Linked DNA regions of Homo sapiens. The protein of the gene in region 1 purifies or fractionates together with the protein of each later gene. This does not show direct contact. Each region holds a gene or a part of one and is shown in the gene's direction. Other genes may lie near its edges. The genes, in order: GALNT9, ZNG1A, RGL3, PRIM1, MAPKAP1, FLG and SERPINA12.

Region 1 (2,359 bases):
TTCATGACGTCTGTCCAGGCGGAAGACCAGCCAGCTGTGCAAGCCGGGAGCCTGGCCCTGCGGAGCATTTGGGCGCCGTCCAGCCCGCATCCCCACGTGGGCCCTGCCCGGCGGTCCTCTCCCGCCCGCAACAGCGTCCCCGGGGTGGGAGGCTCCAAGGCAGCCGCGCAGGGCCCCGTTTGCAGCTCAAGGCAGCTCGCACGGCCTGTCAGTGCTCACTGGGGAGAGCCTGGGCGCTGCTCACACACAGTCCCGGTGGTCCTGTCCCCAGCTGGTGCGGTACAGCGCTGATGGACTGCTGCAGCTGGGGCCTCTGGGCTCCACAGCCTTCTTGCCTGACTCCAAGTGTCTGGTGGATGACGGCACGGGCCGCATGCCCACCCTGAAGAAGTGTGAGGATGTGGCGCGGCCAACACAGCGGCTGTGGGACTTCACCCAGGTCAGCCTCTGGGGAAGGGGGGCCGTGGGGTTGGGGCGGGGCAGGGCTGCTGGGACCCCTGGGTGCCTCTGCCACTAGAGCCAGCCCATTGGGTGGGAGCTGGAGTGCGGCAGGGGGTGGTCAGGGGACCGGGCCTTGGATCAGCTGTTCCCTTATGGGCCCCGACGCTCACAGAGAGGGCAGGTGACTGGTCAGGGTCACACAGCCAGAGAGGGGTCGGGCTGGACAGTCTGATCATAGCCCTGCATCTGCCTCTTCCAGCCTCAGGTGCCCAGGGTAGAGGGAGGATTTAGGAAGGGGATGAGGTATGATTCCAACCTGGGCCGCTAGCCCTGCAGGAAAGATGGGAAATCCTCGAAGCTCCACTGAAGTCAGCCCCTTCCCGGCCCCCCTGGGTGCTGCTGTGATGCTGGCTTTCCATTCAAGCTGCCCCAAGAATGAGCACGAGGGCTGAGAGCACGAAGCAGCCTCCCTGAGGTGGGGGGAGGGGGAACAAGGACGCCTGCACCTGGCTGACTTGATGTGCCTGTCCCCACAGAGTGGCCCCATTGTGAGCCGGGCCACGGGCCGCTGCCTGGAGGTGGAGATGTCCAAAGATGCCAACTTTGGGCTCCGGCTGGTGGTACAGAGGTGCTCGGGGCAGAAGTGGATGATCAGAAACTGGATCAAACACGCACGGCACTGACCCCACCTCCGCCCGGACCCCCACAGACCTCGGGAAGGCGCTGGGCCGAGCCAGTGTGGCTGAGTGACCGGGGTGTGCCCGGCAGACACAGCAGGACAGGGCTCTATGTGCGGCCAGGACAGCAGAGGCTGAGGGGCCGGGGTGTGGCTGAGTGACCAGGGTGTCACCCACTGCATCTGGAGTACAGCTTCTCCTAGGACAGGCGGCTCTACCCGAGGGAGGGCGTCTGGGGACAGTGATGCCAACTCAAACACGTGCCTTCTCCACGGTATCTCCTGGCCAGGCTGCTGGGACAGCCGCCGCCTCTGCATGTACCACAGCCCCCCACGCCCCATAGGGAGGCCAAGCCCCGGACCATGCACCAGGCTGCACCCTGGTGTCTTCCACCCGCAGGCCTCCCATGCTCCAAGCAGCCTCCCCCAGCACTTGCGGCCGCTCAGCCCTCCAACCAAGACCTAAGTCACACATCATAATGCAGCTCCTTGTGGTCTGGTAAGAGGGGTGCTGGAGGACATGGACAGCGACAAACCTGAGGCCGTGTCTAGGAGGCTGGCACGACTGCTTCAGCAGAGACCAAATAAAGAGAGGATTAGGCAGCAGCACTGTGTGTGTCTTCCTGGGAGCCGAGCTGGGGGTTGGGGCCCGGTCCCACCTCTTTCCCAGGCACCTGGGCCCTGCCGCAGCCCAGCCCCTTGCCTGTTTTAATAAATACAGTTTTATTGGCGCCCAGCCACACCCAGTTGCTTACTATTGTCTGTGGCCACCGCTGCGGGGCTCTCGGCACAGAGTCAGGCCATGGCCGCGTGGCTCACAAAGCTGCAGACGCAGACTCTGGCCGATGAGGAAATCACTGGATGACGCCTGTGCTGGGATGTGGCCTGGCAGGTGGCCTCACGTGTGCAGACAGACCATGAACTCGATGCAGCCGGGAAAATGGAGGAGAGCACGTCCCCTGCAGCCACACATGCAGCTGGAGGCCGTCAGCCTGAGAACTCAACCCGAACAGAAAACCAAAACCACGTGTTCTCACTTATCCATGGGAGCTGAATGCTGCATGCACATGACGCAGAGAGGGAATAGCAGACGCCAGGGACTCCAGAGGGGCAGGTGGGAGGGGGAGGAGGACGAGGACGAGGGCTGGAAAACCACCTGTTGGGAGCTGCGTTCACTCCCTGGGTGATGGGATCGTTAGAAGCCAAAACCTCAGCATCAAGCTATATACCCACATAACAAAC
Region 2 (3,500 bases), on another chromosome or scaffold:
ATATGGTGTTTAATATCAGTGTCTCTTTAGCTATTATATTAAACTACTATAGTTAATACATTTTATCATTATTTTGTATGTTGGTTTTTAAAAATTTCATAAAGCTATAAAAAGATACTTGGTCAGATAAAGTTTCCTCTGCTTTTAATTTTGATAAAGTATTATGTATATGATTTCTTTTTACCTATTATATATATGCATCTATTGTTTTCTCACTGGTAAATATGGGACGGACATTTTGTTAGAAGGTTAGAAGTGAGTTAAATTTTCACATTCCCAAGGGTACTTTTGTCTCGGGTTGTTGAATATATTTTAAAGTGTTTATAATAATCACTTCAAAATATTTAGGTAATTAACTGTAAATTATGTTTTGGTATTCTCCAGGGACAGTGGCCTTAGAGCTATTGAGAATTTGATGCAAAAGAAGGGGAAATTTGATTACATACTGTTAGAGACCACTGGATTAGCAGACCCTGGTAAGAAGTGAGATTATTAATAACCAGAATATAGTTCTGTGATATATTGTAAATAGATGTATTAGAGGAATATCTAAAATGAGGATTAAAGCTTTTGTTAGTATTAAACCAAAAACTTTTTTTGGTTTAAAAGAGGAAAAGTACTCGGTTGTCATTTTCTTTGGCAGTTGAATGAATGAACAGAGTATTTCTTGGTACTTTTAAGCTGTTAATAGAATTTGAAGTTTTATTGATTGACTTAGGATTATTTGTAAGAACAGAAGTTGTTAAAAATAAGGACATGTAGGAAGAGCAGAGACGTTCTACCTCTAAGTACAGTTGTCCCTTGGCATCCATGGGGTATTAGTTCCGGAATCTCTGAGGATACCAAAATCTATTAATGTTCAAGTCCCTTACATAAAATGGTGTAGTATTTGCCTATAAGCTATGCACATCCTCCCATATACTTTAAATCATCTGTAGATTACTTATAATACCTAATACAATGTAAGTGCTGTGTAAGTAGTTATTACACTGCATTGATAAGGGAATCATGACAGGAAACTCTGAACTCTACTATGGAAAGCTACACAGAGTCAACCTGTTTCTAACAATGGGTTTCTGTTACCTTCTTACCAAGCTCTAATTCTTGATAAAGTCTGCTTATTTTCCCCAAATAACTTTTAGATAAAATCTTTATTTTCATTTTGCATAAAAGTTAGTGCTTATTCTGTGAATCTGACCCATACCATTATTTTTTTTTTTGATCTGGGTCTCTGGCATTGGGGCGATTTGTAAAACTATATTAAAGTATTTGGGGGTAATTTACTCAACAGGTCATAGTTGTCCAAAAGAAATATTGAAGTATCCTGAGAGTTCAAATGTGATCAGTGGTTATTGTACTTAAAACAATTACATAATAACATCATCCCCATGTTTTCAAAGTAGTATTGAATTAGGCTATTTTGGTCCTTATAGTAGGCATGGGTTTTCATACCTTTCTGATAAATCTGACTGATGATAGGACTTGGACTAATATGTTGGTGTTAAATATTTGAATCTGGTAAGAAAGAAAAATATATTGTATGCTTTTATTAGAAATAGCAAATATCAGTTTATTTCATCATAGCCAGTTTTGCCATTTTATAGACAAAAACTTGATACTTTTGAGAGTTTAATTAAACACGATTCAGCTTTTCAGAGGAAGAAAGAAAAACTAAAGATCACAGAGAAAGCTTTTATACAAATTGTAGTTATAAAAAATGTTAATGTTTCTTGCTTCTAACTTTCTTTACAATAAAGATTTTATTGTTTGGGTAAAGATGGAACATTCATTGTAAAAAAATTTAAATACCTAAAAAATACAAAGAAGAAAGTTGAAAAGTAATCATCTCACTTTTGTGATATACAAGTAGGGGCTGGGCATGGTGGCTCATGCCTGTAATCCCAGCACTTTGGGAGGCTGAGGCAGGTGGATCCCTTGAGGCCAGGAGTTCAAGACCAGCCTAGCCAACATGGTGAAATCCAGTCTCTACTGAAAATTCAAAAACTAGCCAGGCGATGTGGCGCACCCCATAATCCCAGCTACTCAGGAGGCTAAGGCAGGAGAATCGCTTGAAAGCTGGGAGGCGGAGGTTGCGGTGAGCCGAGATCACGCCACTGCACTCCAGCCCAGGCAACAGAGCAAGACTGTACACACACACACACACGCACATGCACATGCGCACACACACACACACACACACATTCATACACACACACACACAAGTAGGTACATTTTATTCCAGGGATCTCTCTATGCCAGTGCTACTTGGTAGTATGTTGAATGGCAGCCTCAGCCTCAGCTGGGAGCTTGTTAGAAAGGCAAATTCTTGACCAACCCAGATCTACTGAATCGGAATCTCTAAGGGAGGGGGTCAAGCAAGCTGTTTTTAATAAGCCCTTCAGGTGATTCTTATACTGTACAGCCATACCGCAGGGATATTGTGGGCTTAGTTCCATATCACTGCAGTAAACTGAATATCACAATAGAGTGAGTCACACACATTTTTTTGTTTCCCATTGCATATAAAAGTTATGCGTTTTGGCCGGGTGTGATGTCACAGGCCTGTAGTCCCAGCTACTTGGGAGGATCACTTGAGCTCAGGAGTTTGAGGCTGCAGTGAGTCATGATTGCACCACTGCACTCCAGCCTGGATGACAGCATGAGACCCCATTTCTTAAAAAAAAAAAAAAAAAAAAAAAAAAGCTGTGTTTATACTATACTGTAGTCTATAAAATGTGTAATAGAATTGTCTAAAAAACATACATACCTTAATTAAAAATATTTATTGCTAAAAAATGCTAACAATCATCTCAGCTTTCAGCAAGTCATAGTCTTTTTGCTGGTAGAGGGTCTTGCCACGATGTTGATGGGTGCTGACCAATCAGGGTAGTAGTTACTGAAGGTTGGGGTGGCTATCGCAATTTCATAAGATAATAATGAAGTTTGCTGCATTAGTTGACTCTCCCTTTCATAAAAGATGTCTCTATAGCACATGATGCTATTTGATAGCATTTTACCCACAGTATGACTTCTTTCAAAATTGGAGTCAGTCCTCTCAAACCCTGCTTTATCAATTAAGCTTCTGTCATATTTTAAATCCTTTGTTGTCATTTTGACAGTGTTCATAGCATCTTCACCAGGAGTAGATTCCATCTCAAGAAACCACGTTCTTTTCCCGTCCATAAGAAACAACTTCTCATTAGTTAAAGTTTTCTTATGAGATTGCAGGAATTGAGTCACATCTTCAGACTCCCCTTCTAATTCTAGTTCTCTTACTGTTTCCACCACATCGGCAGTTATTTCCTCCATTGAAGTCTGGAATCCCTCAAAGTCATCTGTGAGGGCTGGAATCATCTTTCAAACTCCTATTCATGTTGATACTTTGATCTCCCATGAATCACAAATGTTCTTAATGGCATCTAGAATGATGAATCCTTTCCAGAAGGTTTTCAATTTACTTTGCCCAGATCCATCAGAGGAATCACTGTCTATGGTAGCTA
Region 3 (3,500 bases), on another chromosome or scaffold:
CAGCCCCTGACCTTGACCCTTGACCCTTGACCCTGGGTGCTGCAATTCAGACACACTTTGCCCCCAGGGGGATCTCATTAACTTTGAGAAGAGGAGGAAGGTGAGTGGAGGCTACAGTGGGTGTGGTGGTGCCTGAGGGTGGGGGTGGGGCAGGGGTAGGGTCTTAGAGGCTCGTCCTCCAGGAGTGGGAGATCCTGGCCCGCATCCAGCAGCTGCAGAGGCGCTGTCAGAGCTACACCCTGAGCCCCCACCCGCCCATCCTGGCTGCCCTGCATGCCCAGAACCAGCTCACCGAGGAGCAGAGGTGACCACCCTGTAGCCTGTCCCAGCCCCACCCCAGCTGAGCCTGGGTCACCAACTGGATTCCACCCACTCCATACACACCTCCAGCTCCTCCCAAGACCCCCTCTTGAGCCCTGATCCCCCACTACAACCTGTGACCTTGCAGTATCTCCAGTCGAATCAAATAGACTGGGCCTGGTGGTTTACTCGTGTAATCCCAGCACTTGGGAGGCCAAGGTGGGTGGATCACTTGAGCCCAGGATTTCGAGACCAGCCTGGGCAACATGGCGAAACCCCATATCTACAAAAAAATACAAAAATTAGCTGAACGTGGCTGGGCACGGTGGCTCACACCTGTAATCCCAGCACTTTGGGAGGCCGAGGCGGGTGAATCACATGAGGTAAGGAGTTTGAGACCAGCCTGGCTAACAGAGTGAAACCCCGTCTCTACTAAAAATACAAAAAAAAAATTAGCCAGGTGTAGTGGCAGGCGCCTGTAGTCCCAGCTACTTGGGAGGCTGAGGCAGGAGAATGGCGTGAACCCGGGAGGCAGAGCTTGCAGGGAGCCGAGATGGTGCCACTGCACTCCAGCCTGGGCAACAGAGCGAGACTCCGTCTCAAAAAAAAAAAAAAAAAATTAGCTGAATGTGGTGTTGAGTGCCGTTGGTCCCAACTACTTGGGAGGCTGAGGTGGGAGGATTGCTGGAGCCTGGGAGGCAGAGGTTGGAGTGAGCCAAAATCACGCCACTGCAGTTCCAGTCTAGGTGACAGAGTGAGACCCTGTCTCAAAAAAAAAAAAAAAAAAATAGTCACAATTGACCTCTGACCTCAATTTCAACCCCATCTGATTTTCTGACCTCAACTTTAGCATTCAGCTGGCCATTCAACTCAACTGTCCCATCTGTTGACTTCCCCATCTTTGGTCCTATCTGACCCATGACCTTATTCATGACCCCTCATCTGACTCTCTGACCCCAACCCTTGACCCTCAGTTCTGAGTAACTGACTCCAACTTTTATGTTTGACTGTCCAGCTTGACTATGACAACTGTGTCCTTTCTTTCTATATAACTGTGACCCTAACCATTGACCCCAATGGTGACCTGACCCCAGTCTGACCCTGACTTTATTTTATTTATTTATTTATTTATTTATTTATTTATTTATTTATTTATTTTTGAGACAGAGTCTGGCTCTGTTTCCCAGGCTGGAGTGCAGTGGAGTGATCTCGGCTCACTGTAGCCCCCGCCTCCCAGGTTCAAGCAATTCTACTGCCTCAGCCTCCCCGGTAGCCGCAATTACAGGCGCGAGCTACCACACCTGGCTAATTTTTTTTGTATTTTTAGTAGAGACGGGGTTTCACTATATTGGCCAGGCTGGTTTCGAACTCTTGACCCGAAGCAATCCTCTCGCCTCAGCCTCCCAAAGTGCTAGGATTACAGGCGTGAGCCACTGCACCCAGTCCTGACCCTGACTTTAATCCTGACCCAATTTGATTCCTTAGTGCCACCCTGTGAATCTCTTTGTGACCTCCTGACCAGCCATCCTGTCCCATCTCTGATAAGACCTTGATGCTCAATGACCCTCATTTACCACCCTGACCCTGGCATGTGGGGTGCCACCTCTGGCTGCTCCCCCTTACACCCCAAACCCACCTCCCAACTGATTCCAACTCTTATCTCTCCATCCCCTGTATTTCCTGCCCCCACCACCTCATCCACATATTGACCCCTCAGCTACCGGCTCTCCCGGGTCATTGAGCCACCAGCTGCCTCCTGCCCCAGCTCCCCACGCATCCGACGGCGGATCAGCCTCACCAAGCGTCTCAGTGCGTGAGTCTCGGGGTGTGTGTAGGGGCGGTGATGTGGGCAGATATCAGCAAGGGCTGCTCCTGCCTTAGCCTCATCCCCTGTCCCCATCCTTAGGAAGCTTGCCCGAGAGAAAAGCTCATCACCTAGTGGGAGTCCCGGGGACCCCTCATCCCCCACCTCCAGGTGAGCATTCTGCTTGGTGATGGGACTGGGGATCATGGGATCAGGAGTCAGCACAGCCACCCCACCTCAGCCTCTGCATCTCCCCCAGTGTGTCCCCAGGGTCACCCCCCTCAAGTCCTAGAAGCAGAGATGCTCCTGCTGGCAGTCCCCCGGCCTCTCCAGGGCCCCAGGGCCCCAGCACCAAGGTACCAAGACGGCTTGTGTGTGCATGCGGGCCTGCGGGCACCCAGGCTCTGTGTGTGTGCACGTGTGTGTGCATGCACATGTGTACACACAGGATTGTGGGGCCAGGAGTGTATACAGGAGGCACACTGAGCGCCCGGGGTATCCATCCAGGGGATTGCATGCATCTGCACGGCCCTGTTTGGGTGATCACTCATAAATCCGACTCGTGCTCAGATTTGGACCTGTGTAACTGCTTGCCCATGGGTCATCTAGGGTGCAATCACATCACACCCCTTTTTATTTGAAACAGGGTCTTCTTGCTCTGTCACCCAGGCTGAAGTGCAGCGGTGCAATCTCAGCTCACCGCAACTTCCACCCCTCCCCCAGGCTCAAGCAATCCTTCCACCTCAGCCTCCCAAGTAGCTAGGACCACAGGTGTGCACCACCATGCCCTGCTATTTTTTTTATTTAGTAGAGATGAGGTTTCGCCATGTTGCCCAGGTGGGTTTCGAACTCCTGAGCTCAAACAATGCACTCACCTCGGCCTCCCAAAGTGCTGGGATTACAGGTGTGAGCCACCGCACCCAGCCTACACTTTTTTGAGGACATGTATGTCCCTAAGAATCTGCATACCATGGCAGACACGGTGGCTATTGCCTGTGATCCCGGCACTTTGGGAAGCCAAAGTGGGAGGATTGCTTGAGGCCGGGAGTTCAAGACCAGCCTGGGCAACATAGTGAGACCCTATTTCTATTAAAAGTCAAAAAAATTAGCTGGGTGTAGTCCCAGCTACTCAGCAGGCTGAGGTGGAAGGATCGCTTGAGTTTGAGGCTGCAGTGAGCTACGATCATGCCACGGCACTCTAGCCTGCATGATAGAGCGAGATCCTGTTTATGAAGAAAAAGAGACTGGGCACGGTGGCTCACGCCTGTAATCCCAGCACTCTGGGAGGCCGAGGTGGGCGGATCACGAGGTCAAGAGATCGAGACCATCCTGGCCAACGTGGTGAAACCCTGTCTCTACTGAAAATAGAAAAATTAGCTGGGTATGGTCGCGCACA
Region 4 (3,500 bases), about 75 Mb from region 1:
AAAAAATCTGCTACCAGGCTGGGCCGGTGGTTCACACCTGTAACTCTAGCACTTTGAGAGGCTGAGGCGAGCAGATAACTTGAGGTCAGGAGTTCAAGACCAGCCTGGCCAACATGGTAAAACTCTGTCTCTACCAAAAAATACAAAAACAGCCGGGCACGGTGGCACATGCCTACAGTCCCAGCTACTCAGGAGGCTGAGGCAGGAGAATTGCTTGAACCCGGTAGGTGGAGGTTGCAGTGGGTCAAGATCACGCCACTGCACTCCAGCCTGGGCGACAGAGTGAGACCCTGTCTAAAAAAAATTCTGCTACCCTTCCCCCTCATTTTTTGCTACCCAGAAGCAACTACTTTCTTTCTTTCTTTTGTTGAGACAAGTCTAGCTCTCTTGCCCAGGCTGGAGTGCAGTGGCTAGTCTCAGCTCACTGCAATTTCTGCCTCCCGGTTTCAAGTGATTCTCCCACCTCAGCTTCCCGGGTAGCTGGGATTATAGGCGCATACCACCACACTTGTCTAATTTTTGTGTTTTTTAGTAGAGACGGGGTTTTGCCATGTTGGCCAGGCTGGTCACGAACTCCTGACCTCAAGTGATCCACCCGCCTTGGCCTCCCAAAATGCTGGGATTACAAGCATGAGCTACCACACCCAGACCCAGAAGCAACCACTTTCTTTTAGCTAAAGCTTTTTTTTTTTTTTTTGAGACAGAGTCTCGCTCTGTCATCCAGGCTGGAGTGCAGTGGCATGATCTCGGCTCACTGCAGCCTCCGCCTCCCGGGTTCAAGCGATTCTCCTGCCTCACCCTCCCGAGTAGCTGGGATTACAGGTGTGTGCCACCACGCCTGGCTAATTTTTTGTATTTTTAGTAGAGACGGGGTTTCACCATGTTAGCCAGGTTGGTCTCGATCTCCTGACCTCGTGATCTGCCCGCCTCAGCCTCCCAAAGTGCTGAGATTACAGTCGTGAGCCACTGCGCCCAGCCCTGTTCAGATTATTTAGAGAGAAATCTTCTAGCTTCCTGCCTGAGTTGGTAGTGGAAGAGTACAGAAGTGGGTGGAAAGGGCTGGGTCTTAACATTCCACATATAAATGTCTAATTATTCCCCTAATATCAATTTGTAATATCAATACAACACACTCTTCAATTGTACTTGTTGTCCAAGTCCAGGGACCTTCTGTTTTATGCTCTCTGGAAAATAATTCAGGTGTCTTCTGCCAGGGAAATGAAAGAGCAGTCACCTAGCTCTGCAAGCTAAGTGTACGAATCTGGGTAGCTAACTGCTTCTTAACTATGCTTTGAACCAATCCTCCTTTTTTTTTTCCTTCAGTCAAGGGTGGCCTTGAAAAATCTTCCTGTTTTTCATCTCAGCTTCACTAAACACGCACTTACTCATTCCAACAATACCTGGTATCACCTATCCCTGAGCCTTTTGGGGGTTCTGAGGTATAAATTGGGTTGCGCCTCTTATCTTTCCTTACTGACAGCCTAAGATTTAGTTTTATGAATCTCCTCAGTAATCACTCCCTTCTGACTTACAGTTATAAAAACTTATGGTGGAATTAACCTCTCAGGTTCTTTTTTTTGAGACAGAGTCTCGCTCTGTCACCCAGGCTGGAGTGCAGTGGCGTGATCTTGACTCACAGCAACTTCCACCTCCCGGGTTCAATGATACTCCTGCTTCAGCTTCCCAAGTAGCTGGGACTACAGGCATATGCCATCACACCCGGCTATTTTTTGTATCTTTAGTAGGGAGACAGTTTCACCATATTGGCCAGGCTGGTTTCAAACTCCTGACCTCAAGTGATCTGCCCGCCTCAGCCTCTCAAAGTGCTGGGATTACAGGCATGAGCCACTGTGCCCAGCTTCTCATAGCCTCTTTATAATAAAGTCTCAATTCAAACTAATTGGGGAGATCTTTTTGAATTATTGAAAAATTTTTAAATACTTCTATGTATGGTAACAAGTAAAGGTTCTTAAAACACCTTGCAATAGGCCATTATTTGTATACGTTCCCTTGTCAGAAAACTAAAAACAGCTTTATTATTATCCTTATTGACCAACAAACATTTATGATGGATATGTATTCATTAAACCCTGCTTTAAGTTGGTGAAAGTTAAGACTCTCATCAATAGTGTATGTGTAAGATCCAAAATAATGAACTTTCACTGTCATAAAGTTGGCATTATATAGTCTCTTTATTTCTGTTTGGCAACTTTTTCCATATGTGTAGAAAATAAGCAGATTTAGCAGTGTGGCAGCTCTTATAGAAACTGATCAATATTTTGTATCTGTAGCCCAATCAACACAATACAGTGAAGCTGGGAGCTTTCCAGGCTCAGGAAAAAGAACTGGTATTTGACATTGACATGACAGACTATGACGATGTGAGGAGATGTTGTAGGTGAGCACTGTGTGTCTTGCTGTTAGGGTGGGTGGTATCACTGACAATGAGTAATGATGACTCTGCTTTAGTTCTGCAGACATATGTCCTAAGTGCTGGACCCTCATGACAATGGCCATACGCATCATTGACAGAGCATTGAAGGGCAAGTATCAGCAGTTTCTGAATGGGGTCAAGTGTAAGAATCGGTTTTCCTCTGACTACTATTAACTATTAGTCTCTGTATTTTGTGATCAAATCTCATTAATTTGTGTGTGTGTGTGTGTGTGTGTGTGTGTGTGTGTGTGTGTGTGTGTGTGACGAGTCTCACTCTGTCAGCCAGGCTGGAGTGCAGTGGTACAATGTCGGCTCACTGCAACCTCTGCCTCCTGGGTTCAAGTGATTCTCCTGCCTCAGCCTCCTGAGTAGCTGGGACTACAGGCGCACGCCACCACGCCCAGTTAATTTTTGTATTTTTAGTAGAGGCAGCGTTTCACCATGTTGGTCAGGCTGGTCTCGAACTCCTGACCTCGTGATCTGCCCACCTCGGCCTCCCAGAGTGCTGGGATTACAGGCGTGAGCTACCACACCTGGCCTAATAAAATAGTTTTTTAAAAAAGAAAGAAATTCCCAGCAGAGAGACCAGGATGGGTAAAGAGATGAAGCAAGAACATGGGGAGCACAGGAAACAACAAGTAATTTAATATACATTAATTAAGGAGTTTATAGATTTGTTTTAAAACCTATTATTTCTCTCTTCCTCAGAGGACTTTGGATTTAAGCATCGTCTCTGGGTATATTCTGGAAGGAGAGGTGTTCATTGTTGGGTCTGTGATGAATCAGTTAGAAAACTGTCTTCTGCAGTACGTTCTGGGATAGTTGAGTATTTGAGCCTTGTAAAGGTAAGATCCTCTTAATTCTAATTTGCATTGCTTTAGTTTCTAGATGTTACCAAGCCTGATATGTTTACTGTCAAAGAAAATGAAACTATCTTTTTTTTTTTTTTTTGAGATGGACTCTCACTCTGTTGCCCAGGCTGGACTGCAATGGCATGATCTTGGCTCACTGCAAGCTCTGCTTCCTGGGTCCAAGCAATTCTCCTGCCTCAGCCTCCCGAGTAGCT
Region 5 (3,500 bases), on another chromosome or scaffold:
TTGGTAAATATTACCAAATTACCGTCTAAAAAGTCCCAGTTTTCATTCCTTCATATTGTGCATGAGAGTGCCCATTTCTCTGAACCCTTGCCAGAGTTAGATTTTTAAAAATCTTTTTGATCTGTGCACAACTGATCAGAGAGTACAATTTGTTTTTATCCGTGATATGTATGTCCTTGTCTTGGAAATCAAACATAGCTTCAAATGATAATTTGCTGCTCTTTGGGAGATTTTTTAAAATATTCTTTTGGGTTTTGAAAAGTAGTCTTGTTAGAATAAGTTGAATAGTGTTCCAAGGGGACAATTTTGAAGGGCACGTTGAAGAGATGCTCTTGTATTACGAAAAAAAGACAATCCTTTATTTATAATCACACACTTACACCTGGCACATTCATATATGACTTATCTCTACAACAAAATTGAATAGTCCTTGGAAGTTAGACAGCAACATTTATTGAACTCCTGCCATGTATAACAGCCTTTGTTGCCAGAAGGAATATGGTGTTATGAACCCTGTCCTTGTGGAACTTATAGTCTAAGTCTTTAAGTACATGTAATTGGAGGTAAAAAGTGACATACACAATAATATGTTTTCTGGGGCAGTCCTGTGGGAGTTCCATATCAGAGCTGGTAGGGAATAAATATTTTTTGAATGAATCATACAGATTCCTTAATGTATGAAGTCATAGTGTCCTAATAGAGAAGATATCTGCTGCTGTTGAGGCATTTGTTCTGGGAGGATAAAGCTGGGAAGTTGGTATGTGCCTTCAGAAGTGTTTGCCCATTCCTCTTATCTTCAGAAGTGATCTATTTCCCTAGAATAGATTTTATTGAGGGCACTTCAGTATACTTTTGTCACTTTGCCTTTTGCCATTTGACTTTTTGGTGCTAGAACACCTATTAAATATCTGATCACTTCTCGGCCTTTTGGCTAAGATCAAGTGTATTAAATGTGTGACTTCTCATTAAAGCCCTTGTTTTTGCAAGGGAGAACTATTCAGTATGAATTTGAAAGCACCTGCCTCTCTACTGGTGACTAGCTGCCTTCCTTTCATGCCAGGAAGATGGCTTATTGTGATTGCTGTAGAAGGATGTTTGCAGCTCTGATCTGTGATACTATGCTTCCACAAATACTCTCATTTATAAATAAATGTGTGGTGTATACATTTTTTATGGTTATAGAGAAGTTTGTATTTTTACAAGTGAAATTTAAATGCTCATTGTTAATTTCATATTTTTTTCTGATCAATATCCTTAAAATGGTAGATTGACACTAATACTTCAGGGACCAGATATCTCAGAAATTTGATGCTTAAAGGAATCCCATGGTATTAGGAGATGTACTCGGTCTGTATTAGGGTATTAACTTTTTGATTCAGGGATACCTTACTCACCTTTGCATTTCCCATTAGCCTCAGAGTAAAATAAGTACTCAAGGAATATATTAAGAGGAAAAAAGTGAAGATTAATGTAATTTGCTTGATTAGAGATGCTCCTCAGTTAAATTTCTTTTTAATCTCAGTATCTTTATTTTAAGACCCACTTTAAGACACATCAGCAGAATGATGTGTTTCCAGACAACAATTTTTAAAACCTTAGTTAACTGTAAGGATTTATTAGCTAGATTTCCTCTCTATGTTCCATTTCTAGAAGAAACAGATTACAAGAAAATCTGGTGTTATAAGTCCTTCTGAAAGTAAGTATCTTCTAGGACTGTTCCTGGAAACATAGTCAATCCAGCTTTCATATTCCTTGTACTTCTCAACAATTTTGCAGGGGCAGGGAAGTCACTCAGATGACTTGCAGTGTCCTCTATCACAAAGGAAGCACAGACTTATTTTATGTGCCACGAACTTACTAAGACAGATGGGATATTGACATATTTTAGGACTACTTTAAGCAAGAATTGATCATTGAAATTATTGATTTTTTATCATTATTATTAATAGCTAACATTTATTTAATTACATGCCATGTATTTTTTTGAGCATTTTACCTGCATTATCTCCTGAAGCTTCCATTTTATAAATGAAGGAAAAAAAAAAGGGAGGCTCAAAAAGGTAAAGTATTTTGACTGAGATCTTATAGCTAACGAGTAATAGGGCCAGGGTTTGAACCCTTTCTGTCTCTAGGGCCTAGTACCTAACCGTTGTCCTGCAATATTTTCTTTGTTGAGTATTTTCACTTAACTGAGAGGGTGCTATCTTGTTACTAGAACAAATATTATTACAGTGTTTTTTGTATGTTTTGTTTTGTTTTGTTTTTAGAAGACAGGGTCTCACTATGTCACCCAGGCTGGAGTGCAATGGTGCAATCATAGCTCACTGCAGCCTTGAATGCTGGGGCTCAAGTGATCCCCCCACTTCAGCCTCATGAGTAGCTATGACTACAGGCATGTCCCACCATGCTCAGCTAATTAAAAAATAATAATTATTATATATATATATTTTTGTAGAGATAGAGTTTTGATTGTGTTGCCCATGTTGGTCTTGAACTCCTGGACTCAAGCAGTCCTCCTGCCTCGGCCCCCCAAAGGGTTGAGAGTACAGGTGTGAATCACTGTGCCCGGCCTCATTACAGTTTTAACAGGACTGAGGAAGCAGTTTTTATAATTAAGTTTCTAAAATAAGAAGTTGATTGTATAGTAGGTAATTTTGATTATAAATTTTATTTTAAAAACACAGGCCAGGCATGGTGGCTCACGCCTGTAATCACAGCACTTTGGGAGGCCAAGGCGGGCGGATCAACTGAGGTCGGGAGTTTGAGACCAGCCTGACCAACATGGAGAAACCCCATTTCTACTAAAAATACAAAATTAGCTGGGCATGGTGGCGCATCCCTGTAATCCCAGCTACGCGGGAGGCTGAGGCCGGAGAATCTTGAACCTGGGAGGTGGAGGTTGCAGTGAGCCAAGATCACGCCACTGCACTCCAGCCTGGGCAACAAGCGCGATACCCTGTCTCAGAAAAAACACAACAACAACAACAACAAAAACACAATACTATCTTGACAGGAAAATATATTCATTGAGCAACATTAATTTGGTGGTACATCATTTTTATAAAACCCCTAGTAACTCTGAAAGCATTGTCTGTGCCCTTTTAAACACTTCACAATCATATGACAGGAGGGGAAATGTAAACTGATGAAATAGAGTTTTGTACTTTAGCACATCATTTGAGGAAAATACAACTTGTTCCCCCATGACCTTATAAAGTAATGAGAAGATTGCATGATAGTGAAGGGAGAAAGAAAGGAAAATATATTGTTTTAACAGTAGTTATGTGCTTCGAGTGGCCTGACTTGTAAGGAGTTGCTGTGATTTGTTTTGCAAGAGTGCAAGCCTTCCTTTCTGATTCTATAGAGATCTCATTGACTAGAGCTGCAGCCCCTAGTGCTTATAAGGATTTCCTTTCAGCTTAGACTAAATCCTTTTAAGCTCCACAGAACAGGGATAAATGTTGATTTTCAAGGTGGCATTTTACTACACTGAATGTGTC
Region 6 (3,500 bases), on another chromosome or scaffold:
TCCGCGCAGACAAGCTTCATCTGCAGTCAGAGACAGTGGACACTGGGGGTCCAGTGGTAGTCAGGCCAGTGATAGTGAGGGACATTCAGAGGAGTCAGACACACAGTCAGTGTCAGGCCATGGACAGGATGGGCCCCATCAGCAGAGCCACCAAGAGTCCGCACGTGACTGGTCAGGGGGAAGGTCTGGACGTTCAGGGTCTTTCATCTACCAGGTGAGCACTCATGAACAGTCTGAGTCTGCCCATGGGCGGACCAGGACCAGCACTGGACGAAGACAAGGATCCCACCACGAGCAGGCACGAGACAGCTCCAGGCACTCAGCGTCCCAAGAGGGTCAGGACACCATTCGTGCACACCCGGGGTCAAGGAGAGGAGGAAGGCAGGGATCCCACCATGAGCAATCGGTAGATAGATCTGGACACTCAGGGTCCCATCACAGCCACACCACATCCCAGGGAAGGTCTGATGCCTCCCATGGGCAGTCAGGATCCAGAAGTGCAAGCAGACAAACTCGTAAGGACAAACAATCAGGAGACGGCTCCAGGCACTCAGGGTCACGTCACCATGAAGCTGCCTCTTGGGCTGACAGCTCTAGACACTCACAGGTGGGACAGGAACAATCATCGGGGTCCAGGACAAGCAGGCACCAGGGATCCAGTGTTAGCCAGGACAGTGACAGTGAGAGACACTCAGACGACTCCGAGAGGTTGTCTGGGTCTGCTTCCAGAAACCATCATGGATCTTCTCGGGAGCAGTCAAGAGATGGCTCCAGACACCCTGGGTTCCATCAAGAAGACAGAGCCAGTCACGGGCACTCTGCAGACAGCTCCAGACAATCAGGCACTCATCACACAGAGTCTTCCTCTCATGGACAGGCTGTGTCATCCCATGAACAGGCAAGATCAAGTCCAGGAGAAAGACATGGATCCCGCCACCAGCAGTCAGCAGACAGCTCCAGACACTCAGGCATTGGGCACAGACAAGCTTCATCTGCAGTCAGAGACAGTGGACACCGAGGGTCCAGTGGTAGTCAGGTCACTAACAGTGAGGGACATTCAGAAGACTCAGACACACAGTCAGTGTCAGCCCACGGACAAGCTGGGCCCCATCAGCAGAGCCACAAAGAGTCCGCACGTGGCCAGTCAGGGGAAAGCTCTGGACGTTCAAGGTCTTTCCTCTACCAGGTGAGCTCTCATGAACAGTCTGAGTCCACACACGGACAGACTGCACCCAGCACTGGAGGAAGACAAGGATCCCGCCATGAGCAGGCACGAAACAGCTCTAGGCACTCAGCATCCCAAGACGGTCAGGACACCATTCGTGGACACCCGGGGTCAAGCAGAGGAGGAAGGCAGGGATCCTACCACGAGCAATCAGTAGATAGGTCTGGACACTCAGGGTACCATCACAGCCACACCACACCCCAGGGAAGGTCTGATGCCTCCCATGGGCAGTCAGGACCCAGAAGTGCAAGCAGGCAAACAAGAAATGAGGAACAATCAGGAGACGGCTCCAGGCACTCAGGGTCACGTCACCATGAACCTTCCACTCGGGCCGGCAGCTCTAGACACTCACAGGTGGGCCAGGGAGAATCAGCGGGGTCCAAGACAAGCAGGCGCCAGGGATCCAGTGTTAGTCAGGACAGGGACAGTGAGGGACACTCAGAAGACTCTGAGAGGCGGTCTGAGTCGGCTTCCAGAAACCATTATGGATCTGCTCGGGAGCAGTCAAGACATGGCTCCAGGAACCCCAGGTCCCATCAAGAAGATAGAGCCAGTCATGGGCACTCTGCAGAGAGCTCCAGACAATCAGGCACTCGTCATGCAGAGACTTCCTCTGGTGGACAGGCTGCATCATCCCAGGAACAGGCAAGGTCAAGTCCAGGAGAAAGACATGGATCCCGCCACCAGCAGTCAGCAGACAGCTCCACAGACTCAGGCACTGGGCGCAGACAAGATTCATCTGTAGTCGGAGACAGTGGAAACCGAGGGTCCAGTGGTAGCCAGGCCAGTGACAGCGAGGGACACTCAGAAGAGTCAGACACACAGTCAGTGTCAGCCCACGGACAGGCTGGGCCCCATCAGCAGAGCCACCAAGAGTCCACACGTGGCCAGTCAGGGGAAAGGTCTGGACGTTCAGGGTCTTTCCTCTACCAGGTGAGCACTCATGAACAGTCTGAGTCCGCCCATGGACGCACAGGGCCCAGCACTGGAGGAAGACAAAGATCCCGCCACGAGCAGGCACGAGACAGCTCCAGGCACTCAGCGTCCCAAGAGGGTCAGGACACCATTCGTGGACACCCAGGGTCAAGCAGAGGAGGAAGGCAGGGATCCCACTATGAGCAATCGGTAGATAGTTCTGGACACTCAGGGTCTCATCACAGCCACACCACGTCCCAGGAAAGGTCTGATGTCTCCCGTGGGCAGTCAGGATCCAGAAGTGTCAGCAGACAAACACGTAATGAGAAACAATCAGGAGACGGCTCCAGGCACTCAGGGTCGCGTCACCATGAAGCTTCCTCTCGGGCCGACAGCTCTAGACACTCGCAGGTGGGCCAGGGACAATCATCAGGGCCCAGGACAAGCAGGAACCAGGGATCCAGTGTTAGCCAGGACAGTGACAGTCAGGGACACTCAGAAGACTCTGAGAGGTGGTCTGGGTCTGCTTCCAGAAACCATCTTGGATCTGCTTGGGAGCAGTCAAGAGATGGCTCCAGACACCCTGGGTCCCATCACGAAGACAGAGCCGGTCACGGGCACTCTGCAGACAGCTCCAGACAATCAGGCACTCGTCACACAGAGTCTTCCTCTCGTGGACAGGCTGCGTCATCCCATGAACAGGCAAGATCAAGTGCAGGAGAAAGACATGGATCCCACCACCAGCTCCAGTCAGCAGACAGCTCCAGACACTCAGGCATTGGGCATGGACAAGCTTCATCTGCAGTCAGAGACAGTGGACACCGAGGGTACAGTGGTAGTCAGGCCAGTGACAGTGAGGGACATTCAGAAGACTCAGACACACAGTCAGTGTCAGCACAGGGAAAAGCTGGGCCCCATCAGCAGAGCCACAAAGAGTCCGCACGTGGCCAGTCAGGGGAAAGCTCTGGACGTTCAGGGTCTTTCCTCTACCAGGTGAGCACTCATGAACAGTCTGAGTCCACCCATGGACAGTCTGCGCCCAGCACTGGAGGAAGACAAGGATCCCATTATGATCAGGCACAAGACAGCTCCAGGCACTCAGCATCCCAAGAGGGTCAGGACACCATTCGTGGACACCCGGGGCCAAGCAGAGGAGGAAGACAGGGGTCCCACCAAGAGCAATCGGTAGATAGGTCTGGACACTCAGGGTCTCATCACAGCCACACCACATCCCAGGGAAGGTCTGATGCCTCCCGTGGGCAGTCAGGATCCAGAAGTGCAAGCAGAAAAACATATGACAAGGAACAATCAGGAGATGGCTCTAGGCACTCAGGGTCGCATCATCATGAAGCTTCCTCTT
Region 7 (3,500 bases), on another chromosome or scaffold:
CCCAAGTGCTGCACATTCCAAGAGGCGCTCAGAAAAGGTTCTGAGGAAAGGTGGCATCTCAGAGGGCCTGGGGTTCCTGGGGCAGGAAGGGGTTTCTGGGGCAGGAAGGGGTGTCTGGTGCATGCAGCCAAGTGTAGGAAGCATCTCCCCGATGAGGAGGCAACACACTGGTTGCCTGAAGCTCGCTCTGTTGGTTCTCAAGACATGGGAACTTGTCCAAAGCATTCTAAACTTTTTGGTCTCATTGGCTTGAGGAAGGATATTACATCAACTCTTTCTAGCCAGTCAGTTTCATCCCAGGGAAGAGAGGTAGGGTGGTCAACTATCAGGAGAGGAGTGACCTGCCTGGGGGCAGGGGGAGTTCTCTCTAAAGAAAACTGTGGTTCCAAACCACTGTGCACTGAGTAGACCTTCTGTAGCCTGTGTGTGTTATCCCTGTTTAGGTATCATTTCTTCAAACTGTGGTGATAACGGGGGAAGCGCTTTGTAAAATTAGAAATATTATTATTGTTGAGTCTGCTGTCACAGCTCACTGTTGCTTCAGTTGGCTGATCGGGACGGTGTGGGAGGTGGAAGCAGTGCCCTCCCACAGGGAAACCCCTTCTCGTGTAGACTTAAGCCGCCTATGCTACCTGTGCGGACGCTTCCCATCTGGTTTGGATCTGTCTTTAGGATGAATGACTTCCGGGTCAGTGAGGCACTATTTTATCTAGTCATAAGAGGAGGAAATTATTTTTCCAAATTAATAGGGAACATGGGAGCAGGATGATCAGAGAATTGAAATACTGACTATAGCTTCATGTGTCCCATGTGTACCCCATGGGGTTCGGTTTCTATCTTGTTCTTTTTTTTTTCTTGGTTTTGTTTTAGTTTTATCTCTTTATTTATTTTGAGTCACAGCCAAACACACACAGATACACACACACACACACACACACACACACATTCCAAACTAAAAGCCAACAAACAATTGCTCAACTCAGGAGAGCAACCTATCAATTGATTGGGAAATAACCAGTTGCTCAGCTATTTTAATTGATGGAATTAAAAAATTAGCCTACTCAGGCATCTAACCCAACTGACAAATTTGGGTCAGTTTAAAGCCCGTGATGACAGATGGAAAGGCCCGGAATGGGGCTGGTGTTGGCTGTTTGGGGGAGAAAGGCCAGATGTTCGCACTCAGGGAGCCAGGGCAGGAGGCCCGGTGGAGACTGCTGTGACACAGGCATGCTGAGGTGGGAGGGTGCTGAGACCCCACCAGGCCAGGGTGTGGGCTGTGTCCCTTGGGGCGGGGGTGGGGGGGCGGGGAGGTGGTGGCAGTGCCACCTGATCAGCAGTATCTCATGGGGGAAGAAACCAAATTATCACCACCTCCCCCTCATTTAATAGATGAAGATACTGAAAGCCTGAAGGGTGAAGAGACTTGCATCAAAACACCTAACAAACACACAAGTTGGGGAGGACCGCTATCCAGACCTGGAATTCCATAATCCGTTCTTGTTTCTGAAACTTGACAATGTTTAGGGATCAGTGACTGAACATCACTGTAAAGCTGTGCGTGCCACAGAGTGTTCCCAGGATGGTGCTTTCTGTGGGTTCCTTCCCTGCTCCAGCCCTGCCCTGCCCGGCCTCCTCCAAGGCTCCTGCCAGGCTGCTGGTTTCACCGCTGCTGAGAATGTTTTCTCAGCTCAAGGGACATGTCTTAACTTCTCCACTCCTAGGCACTGGGAACTTGCGCCCACTCTGAATAGCAGAAGCTTCTATTTTTAATCCAGGCAGCCTTTGTAAACAGTGCAGCCCCCTAAACCCTGAAATGGACTCCTTCCTATTTTCTTTTGTTTATCTGAAGCATTCTTGGGAATTTTACTAATTTCTCTTCTACAATCTGTTTTCAGCAGCCCATAGAGCCCTTGTTCATCACCAGCTGTTATTAAGTTTTACCAAGAAGTGGTTTTTGGGGGTAGAAGGTGCTTAGAGAGCACCCAGGTTCAGAGAGGGAAGTGCTTTCTGGAATGTCACACAGCTACGAAGGCATGAGAGCAGAGCACAGAACTCCTGCCTACTTAGTAGTCCTGGCGTTTTAAAAAATATGTATCTGCCCGTATTTGTGAGGATGTTTTTGGCTTCAAGGAAGTGACCATGTAACTCAACGTCACTGGGGGTCCAGAGGCAAGGTGGGCTCTGGGTTCAGCTTTTTCCATGGACCCAGCCCCGGTTTCTCTTAAGAGCCCTTGGATGCATCCTCTTTGTGCTATGGCTTTGTCTTAGAGTCACTTCCCTCACGGGGCAAAGTTGCTGTTAGTCCCTGCCTGCCGTGCCTTCCTGCCCAGGACATCCCAGGAAAGAGACAGGCCAGCACCCCAACATTCCAACAAACAGTCTTGAAATCCTCCCTCATTGCACCCCTTAAGCCACATGCCCCTCCCTAAACAAGGATCAGGGCAGAAATTCCCGCCTGCACTGATTGGATTAGGTCTGGCTCCTGAACCAACCAGTAGCAGGAGAGTTGAGATGCCCCTGCACCAATCAGGCCCTCCCTTGGAGCTGGGAGGGGCTTGTGTCCCTGAGGCACATGGGCTGCCTGAGAGAAGAGTATATTATTGAAAAGAAGAAAAAGAAAGAGAAGATGAGGAGAAGAGGATAAGAGGAGAAGAAGGCGAGGAGGGGAAGAGGAGAAGAAAGAAGAAGAGGATCTATTGGGAAGCTGGGAGAATGGATGCTGAAGGAGCAATGAGCAGTATTCACTAGAATTTTCCAATACTATACTACAAACTCCTTGAAGACCTTTGTTGTGATCAAGGCTCTATCCACAGTGCTTGGCGTAGAAGGATTTGGACATGAAGAACCTGGGAACTGGGGACACTCCTAGGTACAGGCCCTGCCTGGTGTTCATTCATCTGCTTATTCAGCCAACCAGAAAGAGCCAGGCATGGGAGTTTAGCTGTGCAGACCCCGTTGGTGGCTGACCCAGTTCCCTTTTGCTGGTGCTGCTGTGAGGGTTGCCTGCTGACAGCTCACAACTGCCCTCCCCTCTCCAGAAAATTGTCCTTGGCTGATAAGACCTAACTGACCCAGTTATGCACCATGACCTGCATCCAGAGGACAGATCACAGCCACCAACTGACCGATTCTATCCAAAAGGCCAGCCTGGAGAGCCCTCCCACTGTGGACCAGGCCAAGGCTAGATGTCACCTTGGCTCCTTCCCTTTTCCATCCCACTTCCCTCACTTCCCTACAGGGAAGACAACTGCCTCAATACATAACATGCACCTAAATCCCCATCTCAGGTTCTGCTTCTAGGGAACCCAATCTAAGACAACCATGAAAAACCTTTACTGTGGACAGGCTGACTATTACCCACAGATTACAGACATGTAAGATATAAATTACAGGAAGAAAGCAGACTAAATGATATAACAGATGACCAAGCAAAGAAATCTGCCTTCGTTTTACATATAAATGGGTGTGACCATCACTGACAGTAGTATGTCCAACCAGAG

Evidence for each region.
Region 2: the proteins of GALNT9 (region 1) and ZNG1A purify together in Homo sapiens (affinity purification with mass spectrometry; one large-scale study listed by BioGRID and IntAct). This does not show direct contact.
Region 3: the proteins of GALNT9 (region 1) and RGL3 purify together in Homo sapiens (affinity purification with mass spectrometry; one large-scale study listed by BioGRID and IntAct). This does not show direct contact.
Region 4: the proteins of GALNT9 (region 1) and PRIM1 purify together in Homo sapiens (affinity purification with mass spectrometry; one large-scale study listed by BioGRID and IntAct). This does not show direct contact.
Region 5: the proteins of GALNT9 (region 1) and MAPKAP1 purify together in Homo sapiens (co-immunoprecipitation; one large-scale study listed by IntAct). This does not show direct contact.
Region 6: the proteins of GALNT9 (region 1) and FLG purify together in Homo sapiens (affinity purification with mass spectrometry; one large-scale study listed by BioGRID and IntAct). This does not show direct contact.
Region 7: the proteins of GALNT9 (region 1) and SERPINA12 purify together in Homo sapiens (affinity purification with mass spectrometry; one large-scale study listed by BioGRID and IntAct). This does not show direct contact.

Annotation. Positions count from the first base shown.
Region 1 is NC_000012.12:132,195,872-132,198,230, reverse strand, and holds the end of GALNT9 (polypeptide N-acetylgalactosaminyltransferase 9), read left to right. Parts: intron 1-271; coding exon 272-439; intron 440-977; coding exon 978-1,124; 3' UTR 1,125-1,859; downstream 1,860-2,359. UniProt on the Homo sapiens protein: Catalyzes the initial reaction in O-linked oligosaccharide biosynthesis, the transfer of an N-acetyl-D-galactosamine residue to a serine or threonine residue on the protein receptor. Does not glycosylate apomucin or SDC3.
Region 2 is NC_000009.12:169,057-172,556, reverse strand, and holds part of ZNG1A (zinc-regulated GTPase metalloprotein activator 1A), read left to right. Parts: exon of another isoform or gene 1-68; intron 69-384; coding exon 385-476; intron 477-3,500. UniProt on the Homo sapiens protein: Zinc chaperone that directly transfers zinc cofactor to target metalloproteins, thereby activating them.
Region 3 is NC_000019.10:11,398,815-11,402,314, reverse strand, and holds part of RGL3 (ral guanine nucleotide dissociation stimulator-like 3), read left to right. Parts: intron 1-67; coding exon 68-100; intron 101-182; coding exon 183-304; intron 305-2,017; coding exon 2,018-2,113; intron 2,114-2,206; coding exon 2,207-2,275; intron 2,276-2,345; coding exon of another isoform or gene 2,346-2,363; coding exon 2,364-2,460; intron 2,461-3,500.
Region 4 is NC_000012.12:56,745,824-56,749,323, reverse strand, and holds part of PRIM1 (DNA primase small subunit), read left to right. Parts: intron 1-2,291; coding exon 2,292-2,398; intron 2,399-2,469; coding exon 2,470-2,543; intron 2,544-3,142; coding exon 3,143-3,279; intron 3,280-3,500. UniProt on the Homo sapiens protein: Catalytic subunit of the DNA primase complex and component of the DNA polymerase alpha complex (also known as the alpha DNA polymerase-primase complex - primosome/replisome) which play an essential role in the initiation of DNA synthesis.
Region 5 is NC_000009.12:125,672,709-125,676,208, reverse strand, and holds part of MAPKAP1 (target of rapamycin complex 2 subunit MAPKAP1), read left to right. Parts: intron 1-911; exon of another isoform or gene 912-1,055; intron 1,056-3,500. UniProt on the Homo sapiens protein: Component of the mechanistic target of rapamycin complex 2 (mTORC2), which transduces signals from growth factors to pathways involved in proliferation, cytoskeletal organization, lipogenesis and anabolic output.
Region 6 is NC_000001.11:152,308,240-152,311,739, reverse strand, and holds part of FLG (filaggrin), read left to right. Parts: coding exon 1-3,500.
Region 7 is NC_000014.9:94,499,470-94,502,969, reverse strand, and holds part of SERPINA12 (serpin A12 precursor), read left to right. Parts: intron 1-3,500. UniProt on the Homo sapiens protein: Adipokine that modulates insulin action by specifically inhibiting its target protease KLK7 in white adipose tissues.